2 linked regions of the Homo sapiens genome follow. The protein of the gene in region 1 interacts with the protein of each later gene in a pairwise test. Each region holds a gene or a part of one and is shown on either strand. Other genes may lie near its edges.

Region 1 (3,500 bases):
AACTTTAACCTATCCTTAGGAACAGTGTGGAGTAGGAAGCAAAACATTAACTCTGTCTACTCCAATCTTTTTGTAAAGGGTGCATGCCCCCAACTAAAACTCAATCCTGTAAGATAATGGTATAATCTTTTTGTAGCCCTTTTACTTGGGAAGATGTGTGATGATTTTGGATCAAGTCTGCTGGGTTGGAATCTTGTTTCCACAGGTTACTAGCTGTGCAACTTTGGCAGATTACTTAACCTCTGTCGGCTTCAGGCTCTTTAAGAGTGTTAAGGCTGGGCACGGTGGCTCACTCCTGTAATCCCAGCTCTTTGGGAGGCCGAGGCAGGCGGATCACCTGAGGTCGGAAGTTCGAGACCAGCCTGATCAACATGGAGAAACCCTGTCTCTACTAAAAATACAAAAATTATCTGGGCGTGGTGGCGCATGCTTGTAATCCCAGTTACTCAGGAGGCTGAGGCAGGAGAATCGCTTGAACCCGGGAGACAGAGGTTGTGGTGAGCCGAGATCGTGCCATTGCACTCCAGCCTGGGCAACAAGAGTGAAACTCTGTCTCAAAAAAAAAAAAAAGTGTCAATCATAATATCTACCACATAGGGTAGTTGTGAGGATTTTAGGGGTTAGTGAGAGTAAAGCACTTCACATGGTGCCAGGACCAGGCACTTTGTAGGAGCACAGTGCATATTAGCTATATATAGAATATGTGACTCTTCTGCTGTGGAGGTGTGGCAGAACATGTTATTTTATGGATTGAACATCCTGCACACCGTGGTACCCAAGTATTTGTTGGTGCTCCACTAAACAATTTCTTTTTTTTTTTGAGACGGAGTTTCGTTCTTTTTGCCCAGGCTGGAGTGCAATGGTGTGATCTCGGCTCACTGCAACCTCCGCCTCCCAGGCTTAGGTGATTCTTCTGCCTCAGCCTCCCAAGTAGCTGGGATTACAGGCATATGCCACCACACCTGGCTAATTTTGTATTTTTAATAGAGACGGGGTTTCACCATGTTGGCCAGGCTGGTCTCGAACTTCTGACCTCAGGTGATCTGCCCGCCTCAGCGTCTCAAAGTGCTGGGATTACAGGCGGAAGCCACCACACTGCCCTCCTTTGTTTGTTTGTTTTTTTTTTTTTTGAGATGGATTTTCGCTTTTGTTGCTCAGGCTGGAGTGTAGTGGCACAATCTCTGTTCACTGCAACCTCTGCCTCCCAGGTTCAAGCGATTCTCCTGCCTCAGCCTCCTGAGTAGCTGGGATTACAGGTGCGCACCACCACGCCTGGCCAATTTAGTATTTTTAGTAGAGGTGGTGTTTCATCATGTTGGTCAGGCTGCTCTTGAACTCCTGACCTCAGGTGATCCACCTGCCTCAGCCTCCCAAACTGCTGGGATTACAGGCATGAGCCACTGCGCCCAGCCTAGACTCTGACATTTTCATACTTTCAGGTAAAAATGTTTTCACATATAAGATGTTGAATAGTGTAAGTTGAGAAAATAAATGATTCTGAGTACAGCTTGAACACATACATGTATTAGCTCTGTGCACAGGTTTAAAATACCATTGGGCGGGGCGCGATGGCTCACGCCTATAATCCCAGCGCTTTGGGAGGCTGAGGTGGGTGGATCACGAGGTCAGGAGATCGAGACCATCCTGCCAAACATGGTGAAACTTCGTCTCTACTAAAAATACAAAAAATTAGCTGTCCGTGGTGGTGGGCGCTTGTAGTCCCAGCTGCTCGGGAGGCTGAGGCAGGGGAATGGCATGAACCCAGAAGGTGGCGGAGCTTGCAGTGAGCCGAGGTCGCACTACTGCACTTCAGCCTGGGCAACAGAGCGAGACTCTGTCTCAAAAAAAAAAAAAAAAAAATCTACCATTGCGTTTAACCAGTGCCGTTCAAAAGAAATAATGTGAGCCACATATATTACTTTTAATAGCCACTTTTTTTTTTTTTTTTTTTTAAGATATAGAGTCTTGTTCTGTTGCCTAGACTGGAGTGCAGTGGTGCAGTCTTGGCTCACTGCAACCTCCGCCTCCTAGGTTCAAGCAATTCTACTGCCTCAGCCTCCCAGGTACCTGGGATTATAGGCGTGTGCCACCATGCCCAACTAATTTTTGAATTTTTTAGTAGAGACAGGGTTTTACCATGTTGGCCAGGCTGGTCTTGAACTCCTGACGTCAGGTGATCCGCCCACCTTGGCCTCCCAAAATCCTGGGATTACAGGCATGAGCCACTGTACCTGGCCAAATAGTCACATTTTAAAAAGTAAAAAAATTTTTTTTCTTTTTGAGATGGAGTATCACTGTGTTGCCCAGGCTGGAGTGTAGTGGCGCGATCTGGGCTCACTGCAACCTCCACTTCCCAGATTCAAGCAATTCTCCCTGCCTCAGCCTCCCTAGTAGCTGGGATTACAGGTACCCACTACCACGCCCAGCTAATTTTTTTGTATTTTTAGTAGAGATGCGGTTTTGCCATGTTGGCCAGGCTGGTCAAGAACTCCTGACCTCAGGTGATCCACCCACCTCGGCCTCCCAAAGTTCTGGGATTACAGACGTGAGCCACCACACTTGGCCTAAAAAGTAAATTTTAATAATATATTTTAACTCATATCTAGAATGTTACTTTATTGTGTGATCAAGATTTAAAAATTGTTGAGGGCAGGCTCAGTGGCTCACACCTGTAATCCCAGCACTTTGGCAGGCCTAGGTGGGAGGATTGCTTGGGCCCAAGAGTTCAAGACCAGCCTGGGCAACATAGTGAGACCCTGTCTGTATGAAAAAAAAATTAAAATTGTTGAGATATTTCACATTCTTTTTCTCTGGTTTGTAAGCTATGCTTACAACTCATCTCAGATTAGGCGTATTTCTACATGGATGTATATTATGTAATGAAAAAATAAATTTTAAAGAGGCATATTTCAAGTGATTAATAGCTACATGTGGCTTGTAGCTACCATACTGGATGGTATGTGTCTAAACAATGTAAAGTAGCCAGTTGGTCAACGTGCAGATGACTAGAAATACTTTGAATGTAGACTACTTTCAGGAATGTGTTAAATGTTATTAAGTGATGAGGGTTTCTTGTTGTTGTTTAAAAGATTAAATCTCACTCTGTCACCCAACTTGGAGTGCAGTGGTGCAATCATAGCTCACTGTAGCCTCGAACTCCTGGGCTTAAGCAATCCTCCTTCCTCGGCCTCTCACGTAGCTGGGACTACAGGCGAGCACCATCGCGTCTGGCTGTGTTGTTTTTAAAATCTAGAGCATTCTCTATAAATGATTTATAGAGAATCTATAACATCCTGAGGACTGGGCGTGGTGGCTCAAACCTGTAATCCCAGCACTTTGGGAGGCTGAGTTGGGAAGTTCACTTGAAGTCAGGAGTTTGAGACCAGTCTGGGCAACATAGACCCCATCTCTGCAAAAACAAAAAATTAGCAGGACATGGTGGCATGTTCCTGTAGTTCTAGCTACAGGGGAGGCTGAGGTGGGAGGATCACTTGAGTCCA
Region 2 (3,500 bases), on another chromosome or scaffold:
CAAGTTCTGGCCTAAGTGTGTATGGGGCCAGCAGAAGATGAAGGGCAGGAATAAAACCTCCTTACAGAGAATCAAAGGGAGCTAATTTCATTTTGAAGCCAATTTAGGGATTATTTCTATTCTCCAAAATTAGGAATAATTTCTACAATTGCAACTGAGGAAATGGCTTAAATGAGAAGAGAAAGATCTGAAATTATAGATGTACTATGTGATCCCAAATACAAAAATTAAGTGGCTAAACACAAGAATATGAAGAAACTATAAGTGGTCTAAGGACAGGGGTTATAATTCTTAATATTGAGATAGAGCAAAGGTCCGGGGATCACAAATGGAACTGTGCATTTAATCCCAGAACTGGCTGGCTCAACTACCTACCCCTTATACTCACAACCCCGCTTGCATGCTCCTTCCCATGACAACTCCTCTAAGTCTTCCTGTTAATTTCCTGTGTCATAGTGTGTGTGTGTGTGTACATAGCGATGGCTGGGAAATCACGGACAAGGAGTTAAACGAGAAGAGTTAGTCTTTTCAATGCCACTTCCCCACATGCAACCCCCAGAGTTGGTTCATTCTTTTTTGAGACAGTCTTGCTCTGTCACCCAGGCTGGAGTGCAGTGGCACAAACACGGCTCACTGCGGCCTCGACCTCCTGGGCTCACCTGATGCCCCTGCCTCAGCCTCCCATGCAGCTGGGACCACAGGAGTGAGCCATCATACCCAACTAACTTTCTGAATTTTTCTGTAGAGACAGAGGTCTTACATTGTTGCCCAGGCTAGTGTCGAACTCCTGGGTTCAAGCAATCCTCCTGCCTGAGCCCACAGAAGTGCTGGGATTACAGGCATGAGCCACCAAGCCTGCCTTCACTGCTGTGTTTTTTTTTTTTAATTCAAACATGAACTTGAACCAGACACTGTTTCTTTATATAAAACCGTAAAACTGTTTTATTTTTCAAGGATCCCCATATAAAGTTTCTTTAAAGAGGCAATGTATTTGTAGTGCCAGGCTCAGTTCATATCCTGGAGTATATAATATAAGAAGTCTATTACTCACCTCGAGTAACATCTGTCAGAAACAAAATGTTGTTGGTTGAGCACCCAATGCTGTCTGCAATCTTTCGGTAACTTTCACTCTCTACTTTGTGTCCAATCTTGGTATCAAAGTGACCATCAACAAGCTGAACAAAGAGAAGGGGAAAGACTGGCAATACAAATACACTTGCATGCCCCTCATGCCTTTCTCTGAAATACATGACAATCACAATTACTTCATTCGTTCAGTATTTTCTGAAAATCTACTTAATAGGGAACTTTATGGAGGCTATACAAAGTAAAAATAAAGATTTTATAGCAACAGACATTTGGAAGAAGAAAACTACCAGCTCAACATACATAAGATCATTTCATAATCTACCTGGTTTTCACTACCGTTCATTTTACATCTGAAATAGTTTAAAATAAACATGCCCTACATCCTACCCTTAAAGATGATTTGCACTCAAACTACTCACTGGATTGAATTTTACTCCTGATGAAAGATTCTGAACACTGTCCTTTAATCTTACGATGAAAAAATTTCTCTAACCTGCCTCATGAATAAGCTATTATTTTACTTACAAGAAATTCTCATTTTCTAGTTAAAACGTTTTGAAATTCTACCCAAGGGCTCGTCTATGTCTCTGCCCTCTTGGAAACAATTGGAGTCAAATCTGTAACTTGCTAATTTGACCAACAGTAATTAAAATAAGTCCATATTTAGGGTCAGTTACTAAGATGTGATCTTTTGAATGTTTTCAGAACTTTTCACAAACTAAAAACAAGCATAGTAAGCACTCAAACTGGGTTTGGCCAATGGGAAGGTAAAAAAAAAAAAAAAAGTAATTTTAAGTTTTTTTTTTTTAAAGTTAAAACTGATTTTGCTTATTTTCTTTTTCTTGCAGTTTGCCTCACTTGGTAACTAGAGAGTAAAATTCTTATTAGTGAACTCAGTAGGTACTTTTGTCCTGTCATGATTGTCAGAGAGAGCAGAAAAGAAGTTGTATCTGTATTAAGAGAACAGTCACCAATGATTAAAGGGTTTCATTATTAATATTTGATTTAAAAATAAGACAGAAAGTAGGAAAATACTAAAATTAGAATATTACAACCTCCAAAGCCAAAGTGTTCTTTGCACATGGTAGGTGCTCAATACATATTTATTTTAAAAACTTGTCTGGCCAAGTTACCTATTGTAAGTAACCTATTATAAGTTCGGTCTATATTCAAGTTACCTATTGTAAGTTAAAATAAGTAAATTTTTTTTTTTTTGAGATGGAATCTCACTCTATCGCCCAGGCTGGAGTGCAGTGGCACGATCTCAGCTCACTGTAAGCTCCGCCTCCTGGGTTCAAGCCATTCTCCTGCCTCAGCCTCCCGAGTAGCTGGGACTACAGGTGCCCGCCACCACGTCCGGCTAATTTTTTTTTTTTGTATTTTTAGTAGAGACGGGGTTTCACCATGTTAGCCAGGATGGTCTCGATCTCCTGACCTCGTGATCCGCCCACCTTGGCCTCCAAAAGTGCTGGAATTACAGGCGTGAGCCACTGCGCCCGGCCGGTAAATATTTATTTTTAAAAAGTATCTGGTCAAGTTACCTATTGTAAGTAACCTATTTTAAGTTAAGTCTATATTCCAAGTTACCTATTGTTAAGTTTGGTCTATATTCAGCTAATCAGCACTTCTTTTTAAAACCCTAAATGTAGTCACTTCTTTCACTGATCACCCCATCCTCCAGGGGGTGCAGGGATGATGACACAGAGGGGCTAGCAAGAATTTTCTCATGTACATGAAATGCAACAGGTGACGACCTTATTACATTTAAAAATGTGCCTGGTTCTCCTATAATAATGCTGGTTCTTCTTAAATGAAATCTATATTTCTTCAAAGAGCCAGAAACAAATGAGTGCACCTTGTTCTCTGCTGTATTCAAAAAGTCTTTATATATTTCTCAGGACTGCACAATCCTATTTTGCATCCTAACTGATTTTATTTTTCAAGACACAGAATAAACTTTATATAACAACCTTATATAGAAGAAACTGTAAATACAATATAATTAAAAGTGATTATTTTCTTCTTACCTAATTTTAAACAACCAAAAAAAAAAAAGCATTCTATTAGTTCCAATTAGTTTTCCATTAAGATTCATTATTTTATGCTTTGATAGCGTCAAAACAACAAAGTAAACTAGGTAACCTACCTCAAGAATATCTCCCTCCGTAGAATGCCCGAATAACAGTTTCTGTGCCTCCACACTCCCTGAGGAATAGATGTACACCTTCATTCCGGCCTCTCTCCACTTCCTGACTGCTGGAACTACATCTGCAAAGAACCTAGAGGGAAGACCACTAAGTTAAAATACAGGAACACCTCATCTAGCCAGATAAAAACCTGTCAAAACAGATGCCATATGTTTCTCTCTTTGTGCCCACATGGTAACCTGAGAAGCAGCTCCCTGAGACTAC

Evidence for each region. The genes of interacting proteins can lie anywhere in the genome.
Region 2: the proteins of RAB10 (region 1) and ENOPH1 interact in a two-hybrid assay, tested with the Homo sapiens proteins (one large-scale study listed by BioGRID and IntAct).

The regions. Positions count from the first base shown.
Region 1 is NC_000002.12:26,037,084-26,040,583, forward strand, and holds part of RAB10 (ras-related protein Rab-10), read left to right. Parts: intron 1-3,500. UniProt on the Homo sapiens protein: The small GTPases Rab are key regulators of intracellular membrane trafficking, from the formation of transport vesicles to their fusion with membranes.
Region 2 is NC_000004.12:82,454,590-82,458,089, reverse strand, and holds part of ENOPH1 (enolase-phosphatase E1), read right to left. Parts: intron 3,369-3,500; coding exon 3,236-3,368; intron 1,176-3,235; coding exon 1,052-1,175; intron 1-1,051. UniProt on the Homo sapiens protein: Bifunctional enzyme that catalyzes the enolization of 2,3-diketo-5-methylthiopentyl-1-phosphate (DK-MTP-1-P) into the intermediate 2-hydroxy-3-keto-5-methylthiopentenyl-1-phosphate (HK-MTPenyl-1-P), which is then dephosphorylated to form the acireductone 1,2-dihydroxy-3-keto-5-methylthiopentene (DHK-MTPene).